Linked DNA regions of Homo sapiens: region 1 is linked to region 2. The links come from fine-mapping of genetic effects on gene expression. A gene starts in region 2. The other region holds a variant in brackets. All regions are shown on one strand. Distances are between the middles of the regions. Region 1 has its middle 48 kb from the start of LINC02265. Region 2 holds the start of RHOH (ras homolog family member H).

What was found. PIP is the estimated chance that this variant, and not a neighbour inherited with it, causes the effect.
Region 1: its variant is fine-mapped to the expression of RHOH in whole blood (TOPMed, PIP above 0.99).

What each region holds. Positions count from the first base shown.
Region 1 is chr4:40,253,183-40,264,310 of GRCh38, forward strand. No RefSeq gene overlaps it. Among named protein-coding and RNA genes, the nearest start is that of LINC02265, 48 kb to the right of the region's middle. RefSeq lists an enhancer at 4,850-5,628. The variant C/A (reference allele first, on the strand shown) is at 5,577.
Region 2 is chr4:40,193,143-40,204,270 of GRCh38, forward strand. It overlaps RHOH (ras homolog family member H), which reads left to right and starts at 3,889. Exons shown (of 3, transcript NM_004310.5): 1 at 3,889-4,158. RefSeq lists enhancers at 1-235, 756-895, 1,385-1,594, 1,635-1,684, 4,862-4,961.

The DNA of each region.
Region 1 (11,128 bases), 60 kb after region 2:
AACCAGGGAGGGGGAGGTTGCAGTGAGCTGAGATCGCGCCAGTGCACTCTAGCCTGGAGATAGAGCGAGACTTCGTCTCAAAAAAAAAAAAATTGTTTTAAACACAGAAATCATTAAAGTAAGTGATTACCTCTTCTGGTCCCGGGGTGTCACAGGTATTGGTAATGTTCTATTTTTAAGTTTGGGACATAGGCACTTGAGTGTTCATTGATTTTTTCCTATTATTTATTCTTCAAAATATCCAGATATATTTTATGTATTCTTTTGTGTGTATGATATAATTAATTAAAAAAATTTAAAGTTTGGGTTCTAAAGCAAAACTGTCTGAACTTGAATCTCAGCTCTGCCACTCACTAGGCTCTACAGCCTTGTGTAAGTTAACTAACCTCTTTGTGTGTCAGTTTCCTCATCTGTAAAATGGAGAAAATAACATAGTGAGCATTAAAGGAGCTAATGTGGGTAAAGGCTACACTATGTCTAGTACAATAAATGGCAGCTATGTCATTCTACTGTTATACACCTCAGAGCTGGCAGGATTCTACTGTTTATGGATGAAGACACAGGTATTGAGACCATTGCCTGACCTGCCTAAGCCCACAAATTGGTGGTAGACCCAGACCACCTCACTCGTCCTACTCTTTGCTGCTCTTTTCTGTAAACTTCCTAAGAAGAGAGGAACCTGGGGTTTTTACTTGTTCGCTTTTCATACACTTGCTTTTCAACCCATGTTTGCTGTACTTGAATTCTTTCTAGTATTGTTTCTTAGCACAAATAGGTAACTTTCAATATCTCACAGAAGGGATCAACAGAGGCTCAGTCCCTTATCGTATGTGAAGACATCTCCATTCACTTGTTTATTTACTCAGAATGTACTGAGTTCTTTAGGTTCTTTACGGGGTTTATTCAGAGAAAGTGGAGGACTCAGTGACTCACAGAGCATCTCTCCATAGCTGGACTTGCCGTGTTGTTTCCTAATTATTTACTTGTGTTTCTATCATTGCACCTTGGCCTTAGTGTCAAGCTGTGCAATAGCCAAAGTTCCCGCTTTCATAGAGTTTAAGGATTTAATTAGGGATAGGGGTGTGAACAGTAGTTATAAAATAAACAGATAAGATCAATGTAGCTGGGTGCAGTGGCTCACGCCTGTAATCCCAGCACTTTGGGAGGCCGAGGCGGGTGGATCATGAGGTCAGGAGATCGAGACCATCCTGGCTAACACAGTGAAACCCTGTCTCTACTAAAATACAAAAAATTAGCCAGGCATGGTGGTGGGCGCTTGTAGTCCCAGCCACTTGGGAAGCTGAGGCACGAGAATCGCTTGAATCCAGGAAGCGGAGGTTTCAGTGAGCCGAGATCATGCAACTGCACTCCAGCCTGGGCGACAGAAAGAGACTCTGTCTCAAAAAAAAAAAAAAGAACAATGAACAATGTAGATGGATGTTCGGTGCTATTAAGAAAATAAATTAGGAAAAGGGAGAGAGGATATTTAGCATTTTGGTAGGATAGGGAGGCCTGATAGAGCAGAGGCCCGAATGATGTTGACAGACCACATCAGTGATCTGGTTTTAACACAAACAACCTCTTTGTAAAAGAAAGCAGGCTTAGGTTTTTCCCTATTGCCCTGCGAGGGACACACATGCTTTTTACCATGATGAGTGTTCAATATTGCACAGCACCCTCCAGCAGTGACTGCCTTCATTGGGGATTCTAATCCATCTGTCTGCCTGCTGGGAATGACTGAATTGGGGCAGTTTGAGGGGATGGATTATCAAATAGAGCAGAACAGAAAATTGGCATGATTCATAGAACCAGGGTGGTGCTGGGGGGTTACACAGGCAAGCGGTTTCTAATGGATTCTGCACAAAAGGAAGGAAATGACTAGAACTCAGGGCCTACATAGGACTCAGAGTGAAGACCTCGCCTGCAGGGCCCTGAGGAGAGATTCCAAGAATCTGCAGGCTGAGCATGTGTGCTTGTGGCAGCACAGGGTTGAGAAGCAGCGAGGCTGCAGCTTGCTGGAGCCCAACTATTGATGCAGTTGAACGTCCTTTGTAGCCTTGTTTAAATAGAACATAATAAGGCGGCACAGTCTGTCTGTAGAACTTTTACACTAATTGAAACAGATATGGGTGCAATTTACAAGTGAGTCACCAGAGCTAACCCAAGGGCAGTTGTTGCATCGTAGATCTGTTGTCTTGGGGAATTGACTTACTGAGGTGTTGGACTGAAGATATTTTTTTAAAAAGTTTTCAGACAGCCCTAGGTAAATCACTGCACATGTGTACTTCTCAAATACATCTCCTCCCTCTCCCCTTTCTCTTCCTCCTCTTCATCGCTTCTGTCTGCAGCCCGGGGGTACCTCTCTCACCCAACTTTGATTGCTCTAGCATCAAACAGTGCTGTGCCCATAGTAATGCTGAACCACATTTCTTAAGTGAATCAATCCTCACAGTCATCAACTCCACACATTAATTCATTTAGTACTTTAAAATTTTCCAAAGTGCTTTTCCTTGTCTTATTATAACAATTGCCAGCATTTGGTCAGCACTCTAGAGGTTATAAAGTACTTTGTGTACACTGTCTCCTATGACATCACAGCAATGCTGTGGGTTATTATTACTTGACTCATTTTGCAGGCAAGGAAGCTAAGGTTCAGGAATGCTAAATGACTCATCTGTGACCATGTAACTAATGCTTGGCAGAATCAGGATTTGTACTTAGATCTCTTGCTCCAAACTCCCTTTTTTCCATTCGATGATGCTTTCATCTGATGCTCTGGATGACCCTGTGAGGTGTTAGTGTAAGAGATGAGGTCCAGGAGGGTGACATGGCTCATCCAGGCCACACACATGCACTCACTGACCAGAAGTGAGGTCTTCCATCCAAGCCTTGGCTGTCACTATTTTCACCCTTATTGTCAGAGCATATTTTTTTAACTGAACCCACTTACTGTGTGGTTGTCTGCTAGGCATTCATTGAGTAAACAGATATTGATGCTATCTCTGTTTAACAAATGGAAAAGTCAGAAAGAAGGAAATAATCCATAAATCCAGGCCTCAAACTGTATTTACCTTACTTCTCTGGATACTGCATGCAAACCCATACAATTTTTTTTTAATCTCTTGTTAGTGTAGATCCTTTCATTGAGCTCAAACCTAAATCAACATGGCAGAACATTTTCCCCGGCTTCTCTGTTATTTACTGGACTCCCATTTTTTGGAGTTGAAGGGGACCTCAGGGAGGATTTAGCCCAATCCTATCATCTTACAGATGAAGAAACTGACTCTCCTCTTTGCCCAAGACACACAGATGGCTTTGGGCAAGTCGGGACTTGAGGGCCAGGCTTTGGCTCCCAAGGGCTCTCACTTGTTCCTGCAGGCCTCAGAACTTCCAGCCTCTAACATGGAGCTTTGGACTCTGCCTATTCGTTTCAGGTTTCTGTGATGGAAGTTTAAAGGCTGCTGGGTGTGGTGGCTCATGCCTGTAATCCCAGCGTTTTGGGAGGCTGAAGCGAGCAGATCACCTGAGGTCAGGATTTCCAGACCAGCCTGGCCAACATAGTGAAACCCCGTCTCTACTAAAAATACAAAAGTTAGCTGGGCGTGGTGGCAGGCACCTGTAGTCCCAGCTACTTGGGAGGCTGAGGGAGGAGAATCACTTGAACCCAGGAGGGAGAGGTTGCAGCGAGCCAAGATCATACCACTGCACTCCATCCTGGGTGACAGAGAGAGACTCCATCTCAAGAAAAAAAAAAAGAAAGAAAATGTCAGAGACAAAGGCTAGCACATGAAACCAGTGAGTAGAGAACAGGAAGACACAGGACACGCCAGCCAGCCAGAGGCACTGCCTGGCTTATTAGCAATAAGCTCAACTGCTAGAGCTGTGTGTCCTGAACAACTCAGGCTGGGGCTTTGTGTGTTCAGGGGCACCCCAGAGATACTCTCCCACCCCTTTCCCCAAATGCTCCTCAGGAAAATCTGCAATCTAGCCTGGTTGGCACAAGTGAAAGAAATCATAACGGAAAGAGATTCTTTATATTGATGTCTTTCTATGTCTATCCTAAGAAAACCCACAGATATTGCACATTCATTGGTGAAAAGATTAGAAGCAATGAAACAAAATGATAATAAAAAACACTTCAATAGCTACTGTTACATCTTTTTTTGTCTCTACCATTCCAGACTTTTTCTTATCCACATATGTGTGTATTTTTACAAAAATAGGTTCGTATGGTGCAATCTGATTTGCAATCTACTTTTTTCATTTATTATATTGTGAACAGCTTTCAGTATCAGTATGTTAACGAATATACATACTCCTACACTGTGTAATGGCAGTGTGTTAGCCTAGATTTTTCCAAGGAACCTGTAACCATGTTTGTTAATTGTATCCATGGGCTTCTAAGGGGTGTGTGTGTGTGTGTATGTGTGCATGCACACATGCATATATATATATACACACACACAAATAGATATATACATACACATATATAAATAGCCTTGCTTAGACTCATAGTAATAACCTCAGATATATCCAGCACTATGTACTTTACATATATTAATTTATTTACTTATTGTAAGCACCCAAGATAAAAGTAGAATTTTCATCCACCCTTTACAGATGAGGAAACTTACTCAAGGTAAGACACTGGCATGTGGTAGAGTCAGGATTCAGTCCCGGCAACCTGGCCCCCAGCCTGGCCTCCTGACTACCACCCTTCCAATAATGGGCCCACCTATTGGGTTGCACATTCTAACTCCTTGGTTACATAAACTGGGAGGGCTTATAGGGAACATCCCAATCCTGGAAAGAAAAATCTTAGTATGACAGATGTAAAGTCCAGAGAGTTTTGTTTTTTTTTTCTGAGTCTTACTCTGTTGCCCAGGCTGGAATGCAGTGGTGTGATCTTGGCTCACTGCAACCTCCGCCTCCCGGGTTCAAGCAATCCTCCCACCTTAGCCTCCTGAGTAGCTGGGATTACAGGTGTCTGCCACCATGCCCAGCTAATTTTTGTATTTTTGGTAGAGACAGGGTTTTACCATGTTGGCCAGGCTGGTCTCCAACTCGTAACCTCAGGTGTTCTGCCTGCTTCGGCCTCCCAAAGTGCTGGGATTACAGGCATGAGCCACCGCGCCTGGCCACAGAGATTTCTTTAACTTCCTTTCAAGTCACCTGCACGTTCCTTCCAGAGTGTGGCGACCATCGGCCGGCTCTCCTCTCTCTGTCTTTGCTGCTCCTTCGCATCCCCACCCCGGCCTCCATCTTTTTCTGCCGTCCTTCTCTGCCTTTCCTGCAAGGTTGGCCTCCATGGTGAAGGTGCTGTATCAGATTCCCTTTGTCCCCGGAGGAGGCTCAAGCCTTGCGGATGACCCAGAGTAGAACAGCTAGGAAACCAACACGCCTCCCTCTTGATACTCTTGACACCAGTCAGAAGAAACTGCTGTGTGTTTTAGGCTCGCCTAGTCACTTTCCTCCATTTTAACAGACTTCCCCCCAGGAAGAAAGGGGAGGGGGCCGAGGGGAGGAAGGAAAGGAGTGGGGAAGGGGGGAAGAAAACCCCCATCCTGCCACAACAC[C/A]GAGCCTCGGATTTCGCTCTGCTTCGATGCTAAGGTCTCTGATTCTCCCTGGTTCTTTCTGAAGCTTGGGGGTGGGGTAGGGAGAACACGTGCTGAGGCTTCAAGCTGCAGCACGGCTCTAAGAAGCTTCAGATGGGGAACCCTGAATGGACACCTCTAACTTCCCTCTCCTCCAGAAAAAGACTGGTCAGCTGAGGTGGGGCTGTTGTTAGGTTTGACTGGCTAAAAGTTTGTGTAGAGGGGACTCAGGGTTCCTTTCTCTGCCAGGGCATTTTCTTAGGAATGGAACCTCTCAGCTGGGCACAGTGGCTCACGCCTGTAATCACAGCACTTTGGGAGGCCGAGGCAGGCAGATCAAGGGGTTCAAGAGATCAAGACCATCCTGGCCAACATGGTGAATCCCCATCTCTACCAAAAATACAAAAACATTAGCTGGGCGTGTTGGCACACATTTGTAATCCCAGCTACTCGGGAGGCTGAGGCAGAAGAATTGCTTGAACCCAGGAGGGGCAGGCTGCAGTGAGCTGAGATCGAGCCACTGCACTCCAGCCTGGTGACAGAGAGACTCCATCTCAAAAAAAAAAAAAAAAAAAAAAAAAGGGAATGGAACCTCTCATATGCTGAAGTCTGCCCTTCCCAGCGGGTCTATTATCATCTGATTAACTGCTGTGGTGAAGAATCTTAAAATAAAACAAACAAACAAAACCCAATCACTACAGCTGTATACTGTTTAAAAGCACAGTGAATTCCAAGTCGGGGGGGTGAGGGGGAAGGACAAAGAATTCGTAGGAAAAAAAAAGAAAAAACAAAAACCAAGAACATATTAAAATGTAAATCTATTTTTTTATTATTATTATGACGCGGCATCGTCTTGGGTAAATACCCAGGGTTCATCATCTTGCGCCAAGAAGATTCAGGACATGCACACACACAAGGAATTTAGGAGTGGAGGTTTAATAGGCAAAATAAAGAGAAAGGAGAATAGCTCTTTCTCTAGTGAGAGAGAGTGCCTTCCATAAGGAAAGACAAGCCAGTGGCGGAGTGCACCGGATTTTATAGGCAGGCTGGAGGAGGCGGTGTCTGATTTACATAGGGCCCACAGATTGGTTTGATCAGGTGTGACGTTTACATAGTGCTCGGTGAAGGCTGGCCACCCCACCCTAATCTTACCATGCCATTAAATGGGCTTTCCACTTGACTTGCGCCATATTGTCTGCTCCTTACTATACACATGGCTGGCAAAGAGAAGGGAAGATGGAGCCGCCATTTTGAACATGCCTAGTCCCAGGTAGCTTTTTTCCTGCTGGCATTCACCTGTGCAAGCTTTCCACTTGCTTGTCTATGTTTGCAGCTCGATTTTACAGGCTGTTCTGTGTTAGAAAATGATTTTGGGGCTACTTTTCATTAAAAAGGAAAACCTTGCCAGGCGCTGTGGCTCACGCCTGTAATCCTGGCGCTGTGGCTCACGCCTGTAATCCCAGCACTTTGGGAGGCCGAGGCAGGTGGATCACGAGATCAGGAGATCGAGACCTTCCTGGCTAATACGGTGAAACCCTGTCTCTACTAAAAACATACAAAAAATTAGCCAGACGTGGTGGCAGGCGCCTGTAGTCTCAGCTACTCGGGAGGCTGAGGCAGGAGAATGACGTGAACCCGGGAGGCAGAGCTTGCAGTGAGCCGAGATCGCGCCACTGCACTCCAGCCTGGGGGACAGAGGGAGACTCCGTCTCAAATAAAATAAAATAAAATAAAATAAATAACAAAAAGGAAAACCTTACCGAGGACTCCCATACCCTCACTAACTGCCTAAGCAGTTTCTTCTTAACTCCTTTATTATTATAATTATTTGAGAAGGAGTTTCACCCTTGTCACCCAGGCTGGAGTGCGATGGTGCAATCTGGACGCACTGCAACCTCCGCCTCTCGGGTTCAAGCGATTCTCCTGCCTCAGCCTCCCAAGTAGCTGGGACTACAGGCACCTGCCACCATGCCTGGCTAATTTTTGTATTTTTAGGAGAGACAGGGTTTCACCGTGTTGGCCAGACTGGTCTGGAACTCTTGACCTCAGGTGATCCCCCTGCCTGAGCCTCCCAAAGTGCTGAGATTACAGGCATGAGCCACCGTGCTGGCCGAACTCCTGCATTATTTAGACTCAACATACATTGTCCAGTTGCTATAAAACTTTTTCCATATGTCATTCTCTCGATTTCTGTGCTTACCTTTGTCAACCTAAAGGAGGAAATTGAGGCAAAATTAATATAGAGTCCATTTGGGCCAAGGCTAAGGACTGCAACCGAGGAAACACTGAGAAGTTCTCCTGAGAATAAAGGAGAGGTTTTTAAGGAAAAAAGGATCAATCAGGAGAGAGGGCAATTGCAAAAGTTGTTTTTTCAGGAATTTTTGCAGGGTTACAGGGATAACATTGATTAGTAATTGACTATATGTTGTTGAACTATAGTGTGTGAATAATGTTGTCTAGCATATGGCATATGTTAGGTAAATTTATGGGTACTTGGTGGAGACATTCAGTCTAGAGTCTATATAGCAGGAGGCTTCAAAATAAATACTTAGCTCAAGGTGGTAGTTGCTGCCAGACTCTGGCTGAGAGATGGATGAAGGAAGTACGCTGACACAGGTGTTTTACCTGACAGCGTGGCTAGGGGACTGCCGCTTAGCACCACCAGCAAGAGTGCAGCAGCAGCAGCTCCCATAAGCCAGAGACACTCGCATTTATTTAGTACAGATTTAACGACAAAGGCTTGGAGCAAACACAATTTGGGGTGATTAACATTGTCGACCCCCCCAAGTAGAGAGCAGTCCTGCACACGAATGAGCAAAGGTTGGTTTCTGGAGACATAAGTAAACAGATTTATCTAGATAAGTTCCTTTACATTCCCCTGTTATCTGCCTTTTGTTCTCAGCCCCCGGACAAGAGAATTTGGCTGCCTTCAGCCATAATCCTCTCCTGAAGCTTTTGCAAAACCTCCCTGCCTTCTAAGAAGGTTTGTGTCTTTCCCTATAATTTTTCCTACCACCCTGACTGATTTCCTACAGGTAGGGGGTGGAGTGAGCCATGACTGCTGTCTCATTTTAATGCCTCTCTGGGCCTGATCACTTAAAAGGGCTCATATTCCTCAGATAAAAAGTTTATTTTCTTTCTCACCTTGCCATGGTCCAGTAACAGTTTACAGACCTGCCCTGGATGGCAGGTTGCACTTTGAACAGTGATGATCTAATTCACTCATTCCTTCTCCGTTTAGGGAAGTTCACTCATTCACAGAATAAAACATTCATTACATATCTGTTATAAGCCAGACATATAGATGATTTGGGCTTATTCTGTTCTCAAGTGATTGCTGTGACACCATGACCATGTGTTATGATTATATAATTGAATTGGAATAGTCTAGTCATCAATAGAATGTCATGTTCACCATGATAGCACTGAAAAGAAAAATTGCCCCAGGCCTGGTCTGGGACAGACCCTTTTTTGGATGTGATGTAATTCACAACTTCCTTCTGGGGAGAAACTCAGTGCTCCTGATAAAATGCCCAAGCTGTTTTCTGATGGACTTTGATGGGATTAAGGCTTGTTCTGGGAAACAAGTCACACCTACCCTGCTCCCTGACCCCCTGCAGACTTTCAGACAACAGCCCAGTTGACCTTTAACCATATATATATATATATATATATATATATATATATTTTTTTTTTTTTTTTTTTTTTTAAGATGGAGTCTTGCTCTGTCACCCAGGCTGGAGTGCAGTGGGGCAATCTCGGCTCACTGCAACCTCCACCTCCCGGGTTCAAGTGATTCTTCTGCCTCAGCCTCCCAAGTAGCTGGGACTACAGGCGTGTGCCACCACGCCTGGTAATTTTTGTATTTTTAGTAGAAACAGGGGTTTCACCGTGTTGGCCAGGCTGGGTTCAAACTCCTGACCTCAGGCAATCAGCCCCCCTCAGCCTCCCAAAGTGCTGGGATTACAGGCGTCAGCCACCATGTCTGGCCTAACCAGCCATTCTTTTATTCTGTGTCTAGTCTAACAATGACTGTCTGGCCATTCTCTTTTCCTATAAAATGCCCTATCAAGTGTGAATCTTGGAAATAGACTCCTAGAGGCCATTTCACTTGAAGAAAGGCTGCAATACAGTTACAACACGTGGTCATAACTAAAGAGAGGGAAGGAGAGAATTCTGATGGGTTGATGGAGTTGGTGGGACTCAGTGACCCTGAGAAAGCTTTATAGTATTTCTGAGTCTCAGTTTTGTCATCTGTGAAATGGAGACAATAATACCTCAGGAGGTGGCTGTGAGAGTGAATATGGAATGGAAAGGGCGTGGTATCTGCCCAGCATGTATTAGTGCACCCTACATGCACATGATGATGATTATGATGGTGATGACTATGGACCCCTGATCTCTGAAAGAATTAAGAATATGCCATCCAAAACATGCCATTCTGGCATATTGACTTTTAAGTTAAAGGTATATGGAAAACAGTGGGTGCAAGGTCACTCCGACCTCTGTGCTGTTTCTTAAAAGCAGGAGATGGGCCGGGCATGGTGGCTCACACCTGTAATCCCAGCACTTTGGGAGGCCAAGGCGGGTGGATCATCTCAGGTCGGGAGTTCCAGACCAGCCTGACCAACATGGTGAAACCTCATCTCTACTAAAAATACAAAATTAGCCAGTCGTGGTGGTGCACGCGTGTAACCCCAGCTACTTGGGAGGCTGAGGCAGAAGAATTGCTTGAACCCAGGAAGTGGAGGTTGCAGTGAGCTGTGATCGCGCCATTGCACTCTAGCCTGGGCAACAAGAGCGAAACTCCGTCTCAAAAAAAAAAAAAAAAAAAGCAGATGAAATTCGAGTGTGAAAGACACAACATCCTTATCTTTGAGGTTGAGAAGTAGAGACCAGGAGTATTCTGCACAGACCTTGTTCAAATAACTCTTATCTTTTAAGCCTCTCTACATAATTTAGTTGCTTCTTCACAACTTACTACTCTTGGTCCAATCCAGTATATATTAATAAGTAACTGACTCTAGCTGCTTCTTTGGGCGTCTTCATTTCCTTAGCAGGGCTCCCGTGCCATGTAAAACTTATATGAAATAAAGTTGTATGCTTTTCTCCTGTTAATCGATCTTACATCAATTTAGCCTTTGTGCCCAGCTGAGACCCTAAGAGCATGGAAGTGGATGGAGTTTTGCTGTCCTTACATCTCCTCAAGTAGAGTCCTGGAGTTCCAGGGTATTACCGTAACCACCCAATGGGTTCACCTTGCTGGGTGCCTAGACAGAGTTGATTTCTCAGGACAGGGGAATTGCAATAGAGAAAGAGTAATTCAGGCCGGGTGTGGTGGCTCATGCCTATAATCCCAGCACTTTGGGAGGCCGAGGAAGGTGGATCACGAGGTCAGGAATTCAAGACCAGCCTGGCCAAGGTGGTGAAACCCCGTCTCTACTGAAAATACAAAAAAGGTAGCTGGGTGTGGTGGCGGGCACCTGTAATCCCAGCTACTTGGGAGGCTGAGGCAGATAATTGCTTGAACCCAA
Region 2 (11,128 bases):
TAACACGACGTGCTATGGAGCCCTTGGGAGGGCACCTCACTGGGCTTGCAATGGAGGTGGGTGGTGGCTACAGATGGCTTCCTGGAAGATGGCTCAGAGGGGGGCTCTGATTCCCAGTTACGAACTGTGGACCCATGGTTTCCCTCCTCCTGCCACTCTGAAGTCCCCAGGATTTCTCCCAACCCCATCCCAAGGACAGACTGCACAGCGTCAGAAGGGACACGCCCTGGGGCTTGGGTGCGTGTATGTCTGTGAATGTTTGCATGTATTTTCAGCGTTTGCTTCCTCCCCTCACCACTACCCCTGTCGGTTAAAAGTCTGTTAAAAGAATGAGAGCGAGAGAGAGAGAGAGAGAGAGAGAGAGAGGAGAGGAGGGGCGGGGTGGGGGAGGAGGGGAGTGGGGAGAGAGAAAGAGAGAAACACCAAAAAGACATTTTCAAGGAAGGAAGAAAATTAGATGGCAACCCCCTGTCCCCTCCCCCTAAGAAAATCCTCTCTGAGATTAAACTGTGTGAAGATTAGAGGCGTGTAGGTCAGGAGCAGGAGGAAGCCCAACGCTGGACTGTACCAGATCATCTAAAACTGGCAATTCCAGGCACAGAAAACCAGTTCTTCAGAAGCAGAAGGGTGGTCAGCCAGGGGGTGAAAGGGACAGGGGTCTCGCAGCCAGGTATGACAATGCCCTTCCTAGTCCTTTCCAGGATGGGGTGGGACACACCCAGTCCATCCTGACTCTGGAGTACGTCTCCACTTTCGTGCAGAAAATGGTACAAGGCCTGAGGCCTGGAGCTCGTTATAAATCATGCTGGTGGCGTTTCTTGCTTTGTTTCCCAAAGGGCAGAGCCTCATCTCCCCTTCTACTTAGGAGATGGAGGGGATCTGTCCATACAGGCAGCTGTCCTTGTCTGACTCCTCTGCTTTCTGAAGGGGAGACATTGTCCCCCTTAAAGGACACTGGATCTCCTGTTGGAGGGGCAACCAATTTTGAACTCTTTGCCTCTTTAAATCTTTTAGAAACTTGGATGAGAGAAACTTTTTATCCTGAATTTTCTGAAGCATATCTGAAGTCATTTTTCTTTATTATTATTATTATTATTATTTTTTAGGCTGACGTCTCACTCTGTTGCCCAGGCTGGAGTGCAGTGGTATGATCTTGCCTCACTACAACCTCTGCCTACTGGGTTCAAGCAATTATCCTGCCTCAGCCTCTCGAGTAGCTGGGATTACAGGCATGAGCTACCGTGCCTGGCTAATTTTTGTATTTTTAGAAGAGACGGGGTTTCACCATGTTGGCCAGGCTGGTCTCGAACTCCTGACCTCAAGCGATCTGCCCTCCTCGGCCTCCCAAAGTTTTGGGATTATAGGCGTGAGCCACAGCACTCGGCCTATTGTCATTGTTATTATTAGTATTATTTTAGAGACTGGGTGTCGCTATGTTGCTCAGGCTGGTCTTGGACTCCTGGGCTCAAACAATTCGCCTGCCTCGGCCTCCCAAAGTGTGGGGATTATAGGCGTGAGCCACTGCGCCCGGCCCATGAAGTCATTTTTCATCTCTGGATAAAACTGGAACATCAAAGTGGTGCTGTGGGGTGGCACATTCTTACTAATCTCCTGCTGCACTCTCCCTGCCGCACACCCTGGAGTTGCTTTTAGTAAACTCTTCGGTGAGATGCAATCAGCATATATGGAGGAACAGCGTAAGGAACCACCTCACGGACTTGTGGCTGGCTGCGTGGAGTCTAAACATGGTGTTTCACTTCAGCCGTGTTGTCTTCTCTATGGGAATCCAGGGGGCAAAGTTTCTCTTTAATCTCAGCACTGGGGAGCCAGGAAGACCTCATGATTCTGAGCTATGTGTTTATGTTTCTCCCGCGGGCAATGAGCTTTCTGTGTGGTGATATTTCCTGCTTCATACCAGTTGCTGAAGAGCATAGAACCACGTGGCATACATTCTCTGTAATTAACCTCACCCCCAGTTTTAGTGTCATTTTTGTCTTCACTTCTCTTGGCCTCATTTTCAAATTTCTTGTTTTTAATTGTTTCATTTTGCTAAGGTGTAAGTATTTTTGCCAGATGCTCTAAATCCTTTGATGAACAAAACCAGAAGTAGATAAAGAAAATATCCACAAGCTTATGTTCTGCTCAGCTGATAACATCACCATGGTGATCTGGCTTTCCACAGAGGATTTTCCCTTTCTTTCCTTTCTTTCTTTTCCTTCCTTCCTTCCTTCCTTCCTTCCTTCCTTCCTTCCTTCCTTCCTTCCTTCCTTCCTTCCCTCCCCTTCTCTTCCTTTTCCTTCCCTTCCCTCCTTCTGTCTGTCCCTCTCTCTCTTTTTTCGAGACAGGGTCTTGCTGTGTCCCCAGGCTGGAGTGTGGTGGTGGATCACAGCTCACTGCAACCTCAACCTCATGGGTTCAAGCAATCCTCCTGCCTCGGACTCCTGAGTAGCTGGGACTACAGGTGTGGTTGCCCAGCTAATTTTTGTAGAGATGGGATCTCACTACGTTGCCCAGGCTGGTCCCGAACTCCTAGGTTCAAGCAATGCTCCCCGCTCAGCCTCCTAAAGTGCTGGCATTACAGGTGTGAGCCACCGCCACTGCACCTGGCCTCCCACAGAGGATTTTCTAGGAGATAATGTGCTCTTCAGAAGGCTCGAGGATCTCAGCTGGCAGATTGAGTTCTTACTGTGCATTAACAAATTGACACATGGGTTCATGTGGAAGTCTTGTGAACTTGGTAATTGGGTGTCTATTGATAAGAATGCTCACCTTGTACCATTGATTCCCTCTACAACTATGCTGCAAGCACAGTCATCTGCTTTCACTTCTTTGAACATGCCAACCTCTTTCCCACCTCAGGGCCTTTGCACATACTATTTGCCTCTACGTGGAATGTTCTTTCCTCCTTCTCATCCATTAGAGTGGCAGCAGTACTTTAGAATAATCAGAGGGGTTTAAAATAATATTGATGTCCGGTCCCAACCCAGCTCAATTAAACTCAAATCTTTGAGTGTGGGGCCGATGCACTGATAAAATAAAATAAAAGGCATGGAGTTGACTTTATCCTTACGGTCGGCAGGTATTTTGACCAAGCTATCACCGTGAGCAGTAGCATCAACAGTTAGTTATTCAGGGATTTGGGGCACAGGCGGTTGTGACCACATCACAAAAGTTCAATTTGTTGGGTTAGGCGTTTAGCCATAACCTAAGTAGTTGCAGATGGTCTCTACACCTGGATTGCCCATTAGGACAAAACAAGTAAACTTGTGTTTTTAGGCAAATAATGAAACTCTGAGGAGTCTGAAAAAACAACTCATCGCCAGGTAACTCCCAGCCCAGGTGCTCGTCCATACAGGGGTGAACGCACGGCAGGGGGCTGCTCGAACTCTCACTAAGCCTGCCTCTGTTCTTTGCAAAATATTTGATAGTTTTTAATGCAGCAAAGCGAAGCAGACAATCCACCTCTTGTTTTCCCCAAGCTGATGGGGGGAAAGTTCTAAGGTGTTGTTTCCTAAGCTCAAATTAACCAAGATTGGTCAGTGGCATGGACTTTTTTTTTTTTTTTTTTTGGTAATTTTACTTCCATGAGGAATCATTTGGACTCTTCAGTCTTCCTTTCTTCAGTTTTACGTAGGGCTTTGCTGGAGGAAAATGGGGCTAAGGGGGAGAGAAACATAGTCTCGGAGTAGGGTGGGGGATAAATTAAACGCAAACCCAGCGGTGCGGCAAAGGCCTTATTCTGCCTCTGATCTGGGGAAGTTTCATATTCTAATGGAGAGAAACGCACGTGCACACACACCCCCCTAAACCCACACAAATGAAACCCCCTCTGCGGAGAAGCCGGCTACAGGAAATTGACTTAGGCACAGGAACTTGCTAATCTCTTTTGTCACATTCGGATTGCTCCTGCTGCCCCACACACACTAACCCAACCATCTTGGGGTGGACTCCCTGCCAGCCCAACTGTTGTATTTTCAGTTCTTCCAGTGTGAATCAGTTAATATTCTCGGGAACGAGGGAGAGGTTGATCCTATGAGGAAATCAACCACAGTGAAAAGGCTTGGGCCGCTTTTGTTTTCACCTGCTTTTGTTGAACAAATTTGATTTCCGGAGTCAGTCATTTTACTGTCAAGACATTTCTTCGGCATTCTGCAACAGGTAAGGATTTTGCTTCCTTAAAAGTATTTCTTTGGTGTCAAAAGAAATTTTTCTAATTTTATTTAGCTTTTACTCTAGGCCAAACATCGTAATGACTCTGAGCTACCTGCTGTAAGGTGTAGAATCAATTTACAGGGGGACGGGGGTCGGGGGGGTGAGTGTTGCTTTGATATTCACTGCCCCTCACCACAGTCCTAACAAGATTTTTGAAACATGAAAAGTTACAATAGTTGGCTTTTTGGTTTTCCAGATATTCTAGAGAATGCATATGCTTGTGACTGTGGCTGAGCTCAACTGTATGGGTAGTTTAAATACTACCCAAGGTTTGATGAAGTAAATCTAAAGATGCTCTAAGTTGTGCAAATATGAATTTTAAAGTTGTCTAGTTCAGAAAAGAAACAGAACCGAAGTCTAAATGATGTAGATTTCAATCTGGAATTTCTAGCTTGTGTTTTTCACCTATTGCCAATGTTAATGACCATTTCCCAAAAGTGCTCTATGATGTATAACATGTATTTTTTAATTAAATTTAATCTTTCTTCTGAGGTGGTTTGATTTGGAGATATGCTACGAGGTACCAGTCAGTAGCCTGAGTTGTAACTAAACAAAGTTTGGGAAATCACCGGTTTTAGGTGCTTTACTAAATGAAAGTTGCCATTGACGTATTCAAGCAGGCAACAAGTAGTTGGTGTCCCCTTATTGGTTCTAAGCTGGTGCCGTGGAGGATATAAGAGAAATATTTTAAAAATCTCTACTTTGAAGGACCCTATAATCTGGTAGTTGTGATAAGAAGTAAAATTTAGGAAGCAATGCAAGATGAGAATTCAGTGATGAGTGGGGCAGCACAGGCTTGAAGAGTTCTGTGAATTCCATGGAGGGGGCCTGGGGGCAAACTGGAGTTGTCAGGAAGATCTGGGCTTTGGAAGAATGCGAAGTGTCGGTAGAAGGAGAAGGGGCAGGTGATTTCAGACTGGGAGGACCTTGTGGGCAAAGGCACAAAGGCGAGACTGACCTGGAGATGATAAGGCCAGTTGAAGAGACACTGGAGAAGAGAAGACAGTTTGTTTTACACATTGCAGGAAATCAGATTAGACAGTTAGGGTGTGGACACAAAAGCGAGGACCTTGCAGGCACTGGGGAGAAGTGACCCCATTCAATAGTCCTTGGTCTCCTTCTGCCCTGCGGCTGCGCTTCCTCGGCTCTCACGGCACCAGCAGAATTCCATGTGAGAGGGAGCTTGTCGAGCGTGGCCTCTTCCCACTTGGGGCTGCTTTCTGCATCCCTGTGCCTGGCTGTGGGCCTCCATTTGCCCTCTACTGTCTTCCCTTAGGACATCATTTATGCAGAGAAAGGTTCGTGTGGCTCGGGGTACCAGTAAGACCTCCACCTCTGGTTTCTTCATTTTAAGGAGGCCCTTCAATTATCCAGGAATTAAAGTGGCCTTCCTCTTGGGAGAACGAGTTGGTTGATGAATGATAAGCAAGTCTCTATTCCTCAAAAGCCAGTCCCCAAATTCCATGAAATATGTGCTACTTTCTTTGCATGTCTAAATGAGATGGCACGGGTATGCTTCTGTTCTTTTTCTGGACGTTGTTTAGAGAGTCAGTAGATCATAATAATTCAGACACTTTTTTTCTGGACCATAAAATATCTGAACCCATATAATAACAAACATACAGCACGGTGAATAAGAACCCAACTTTTGAGCCAGATCACTTTGCATGGAATCCCCATTCTATCATTCTATCATTTCTGGGCTGTGGGAACCTCAGACAAGTTACTTAACTTCTTCAATGCTCAGATTAAAAAAAAAATTCACAAAATATCTCTAATAACAGTAATAATAACTGAAAATACCTACCTCAGAGGGTTGTCGTAGAGATCAAATGAGATAAAAATATGTAAAGCATGTAGCCTAGTGCCTGACTGAAAAAAAAATCTCTCAATAGATGCAACTCTTATGATTCTTATTAAGGACTTGGCTATTGCCACAAATGAAGGTGTTATGAGCCCTGGCTTAAGAGCAAGAAGCCTGCAAAGCTAACTCTCCTAATCCCAACATTCCTTTCCAGGGAAAGTAGGGTGACAGGTGGAGGCTGGGAATTAACGTTTTTTGAGCACCAAATATGGACAAGGCACAGGGGTTGGGTGTTTTTCTAGTGAGAATACATATGAAAGAAGGAAAACAAACTTGGAAACCGCTATTTTAAGCCATTTGGTAACAGTTTCTCTAGCTTATGAGATGAGAGAGGTCCTCTCAGTATCCGCTGCATTACTTGTGGGCCTCCTTGGTTGACGTCGCTCTCTGAACGCTTGGGGTGGAATTCTAGAGGTGCTTTTCATTAGAGGCAGAGAGCATGACCTTTCTTCCTTGCCCAGTTTAAATTAAATTATTTTATCTTACAATGTGTTAATTTTAGTGCTAGCAAGGCACAGCTAAAATTCCATTTCTACTTAGGAGTGGGGATCATTGTGGCAGTGAGTGCTTATTTGGGTTTGGGATGCTTGGATCTGGGTGAAAGCCAGGATTAAAAAGCATCCTCCTTCCCCATTCCACTCTCTAGGTTATAAATATTTTTTTGGATTAAAAGCCTCCTTTAAAAAAATGCAAATCCACCTGGCATGTTAATTGTGCAGGGGATTCCTAATTATGTGTGCAGATGACGTGAGTCACACGGTGATAGTGTTCCTTCTAGAGTCCCACTGGTGTCCTAAGGGAGGAGACTCTGGAGCTTTGTGTATGAAAAGGGATGGGCACAAGTCAGGATGGGGTGCACAGGTGGAGGCTGGGAGGCAGCATGACAGTGTGGGGGCTGGGGTGGGCTGTGAGAGCAAGGAGGGTGTCAGAGATGGAAAGGATGACCCCAGGGGGGTGGAAGGGTGCCAGAAACTTAGGGCTCCTCTGTGAGCTCTTTAGCCATTTGACTCTAGCAACTGCTTGAATGCCCTGAACAACCTTTTGACGACTTGCACAAGAAGTTGTCATACTGTTCCCCGGATGTGGACAGTTGTTCAGAGACCACGATCATGTGTCTGGTGTCTCACTGTGGAATAGTGGTTTCTAAAGCTGGCTGGACAGCAAAACCACCTGGGGAGCTTTTAAGAAACTGAAATTCCATGTCTCATACCCCAGCCCTCACGTGAGGTCCAGGAATCTGTGTGATTAAAAAATACAAGCCCCAAAACAACTTGGAAAGTGGTCGTTTTGCAGGTGGGGATTTAGGAACCAAGAATCCAGAACTCTCCTACCAGGGCCCCAGAAACCGTAAGTTGAATAAGTGCTGAAATGAGGCAAATTGATCTACTCTCTATTGTGATTAATATCTTCACACAGCAAGTATTTTCCTTTGTTTTGAGTTCATTCCTTGAGATGAGTTATCGGGAGCGGGGTGACTGGGTCCAGGATATGAGGATGTTTAGCTCAGTCATACCCGCATTTTAACACGCAAACGTACGGTGCCGCTCATTTAAAAACCAAAGTGTTGTATACATGTAGAAGCTATATATTATTCCGGGGCAGCCCAAAGAGGGGATGTTGCTTTCAAGCGAAAGCACCAAATCACATTCTTTTCTGGTAAAATAGAATACTAATGAATTGCTTTTGGAAGAAATTTCCAGAGCATTACTGAATGTTCAAGTGCTTCTTAGAGCACAAGTTGAACCTTTCTTATCTCTGCACTCAGTTTCTCGTAAAACTGAAGTCACAGTGACCTCTTCCCCATTTCGTAGAAAAGAAACCCAAGGAAGAGAGTGGTTAAGAAACAGAAGATACGGTTCTCATCACATTTGCCTGAGAACTACGTATAGTCATCCATTCAGTGCCTCGTTAAGTAAATAAATGATTGAATCATTTGTATACATGACCTCATGGAAAAAAGCACGGTAAAATGAATGTTTGAGGGTGGGTAGACAGAATTATTCAACCCGGACAGGTGTTAGATGTTCACTCTATCCCCCCCTTTTTTTTTGCATTAGGTTTTATTCATTATTTGCATCATCTATGGACCTAAAAGCATGCTCATTGTCACACAGATGGGAACAGGGTGAATTTTCAATGATTTCAATGAAAAAAAAAAAAAGATGTGCTGTTGCAAAATATCAAGGGAGATGTTTACAGTGGTGTTCTAGAACCGGCTTGCTCTCAAGTGCTGATTGTAATATTTTCAGAAATTTTCCAAGCCAGTGACATTATTGACTTCTCTTTATCTGTGTGATGGAAATGCTATATAATATTGTGCTATCTGAGCATCTGTTTTCAATTTTGCATTCAGCGATGTCATGATGGTGGCTTGAAATTGGCTATGGTAAAAGTACACTGTGAAAATCAGCAAACACAATAAATCAGGCTCCCCACCTTTTTTTTTTCGGGGCGGGGGGCAAGCATGTTGTTAAACGTTTACTAGCATGCTACTGAGGAACTGTGTAAAATACAAATATGGCAATTTGACGATATGTATCAAGAGCCATTAAAGTGTTCATACACTTTGATCCATTCATTCCACCCCTGGAAATTTATTCCGAATAAATAATTCAAAGAAAAGTAATATGCATGAACATATTCACTGTATTATCATTTATAGCAGCAAAATCTGAAAATACCCTGAACACTAAGCAATAGGAGTTCTGGCAACATTAACTCCATGAGTTTTTTTTTTTTTTTTTTTTTTTTTAAGACAGGGTCTTGTTTTGTCACCCAGGCTGGAGTGCAGTGTGTAATCACAGCTCACTCAGCCTTGACCTCCTGTGCTCATTTGATCCTCCTGCCTTAGCCTCCCAAGTAGCTGGGACCACAGGCGTGTGCCACCACACTTGGCTAACTTTTTTTTTGTAGAGACGGGGTCTCACTTTGTTGCCCAGCCTGGTCTCCATCTCCTGGGATCAAGTGATCCTCCTGCCTTGGCCTCCCAAAGTGCTAGGATTACAGGCACGTCACTGCGCACAGCCCATGGGTTCTTTTAAAGTCATTAAAAATCATAGTTATGATGGTTATGAAAATATGTTTGATATGATGTTAGGTTAGAAAATCAGAATTAAAAATTTTAATTACATTCTGATTTTGTTGTGAATAAGAATTAAATGTGAGCCGTAAAAAAATGAATGACAGCATTTGGTATGTTAGAATGGTGAAATAGTAGAATTTGTTTTTATTTTGTTTATTGTAGTCGTGGTGTGTGTTCATTTAAGAAATTTGGAGAACACCTGTTAATAAGTGATCTTGAGTAGTTTTAACATTTAGGAGGAAGGCTATGAGTTTTGTGAACCACATGGGGCTTTACCTTTAACCGGTAGATGTTACTGTGAATCCCTGGGCAGGGTATTGTAAAGGGAGTTTGGAGCTAGGCAGTGTGAGCTGTGGATGCTAAAGGGGTTTCTTTAGAGCAGCTTAAGGAGGAGGAAGAAGTAAGTAACTGTGTCCTGAGGACTTGCTAAAAGTAGACTGCAAGGACTGAGAAATAGCCCAGAGAAAAACTACCATCAAAGGCCAGAGAGACAGGCGAGAGAAGGTTTCTTAGGAAGAGACAAGGAGACGCTGATCTCAGAGGTGAACAACATGGATAAGAAATTAACTCCATTTTGACCTGAAAAAAATAGGGGCTGACACCAGAAAGGAAATGATTTTTGTAGAGCAATGGTTCTCAAGTTTTATTTATTTATTTATTTTTAGTTTTTTTTAAATTTTTTATTTTTTGAGATGGAGTCTCGCTCTGTTGCCCAGGCTGGAGTGCAGTGGCATGATCTTGGCTCACTGCAAGCTCCGCTTCCCGGGTTCACGCCATTCTCCTGCCTCAGCCTCCGGAGTAGCTGGGAATACAGGTGCCCGCCACCAGGCCCCGCTAATTATTTTGTATTTTTAGTTGAGACGGAGTTTCACCGTGTTAGCCAGGATGGTCTCGATCTCCTGACCTCGTGATCCGCCCGCCTCGGCCTCCCAAAGTGCTGGGATTACAGGCGTGAGCCACCGCGCCCGGCCAGTTCTCAAGTTTTAGTGTGTTTAAGAATCACCTGGATGAGTGCGGGAAGAGTTAACTAATTTAGCATCCAGGTTCCATCTCCATGCATTCTGATACGGTTGGTCTAGAGGTTGGCAGGAATATGCATTTTTAACAAATCCTCCCACCCTATGAAGACTCTGATGTGAATTGCCTGCAGATTACACTTTGAGAAACACTAGTGGAATAAATGCAACAGTTTGGTTTTGTCCAGGGAAGGTATATCTGTGAGTGTGTGTGTGTGTGTGTGTGTGAGAGAGAGAGAGTGTGTGTGTGTGTGTTGAAGGTGAAGCCGCTACTTAAAGGCTCAGAATTGAAGGACTTATAATGTAAAAGGGGAATGAAAACAGAGAAAGCCCAGAGGGACAAGTTATTTATTTGTTATAGAAACAAACAGCAAAAACCAGGAAGCTGTACTTACGATATTCCTTAAAGGAATATAGTTTGTGGCACAAAATCCTCTTCCACAGTTAAACAATTTTGTCCAGCACTTGAACCAATTAAAAGTAGCTGTGACTAGGGGAACTATGAGCACAGAGAAAGATGGTCATGGGGAGAGTCTGGGACCCATAAACATTCTATTTCAGGCCATCGAGCGGTGGTTATTAAACCCGTGGTAGAATATGGGAGTGCTACGGACAGAAAACACTCTGGACCTTACTGTATGATAACATTATGTTAAAGAAGAAAAGAAAGTATATTTTTTGATGAAATGTAGTATTTTATATACAGAACTCAGCACTCAAAATAGTAATAACAATTAGACTTATGCCACAACAACATTATATCACAAAATAAACATATGAAAGTGAATGACATCGCAGTAGCCACTGTTCTGAGATTATCTGCTTCACCTGGCTTTGGAAGTTTAGTGATTGTAATAGCTTTCAAATAGCCTTCAATGTCTCGTGCTCTTCTTAAAGTGGAGATGATTCTTTTACTTTAATCACATTCCCCATCGTCAGGGCCTCTGATCTCTT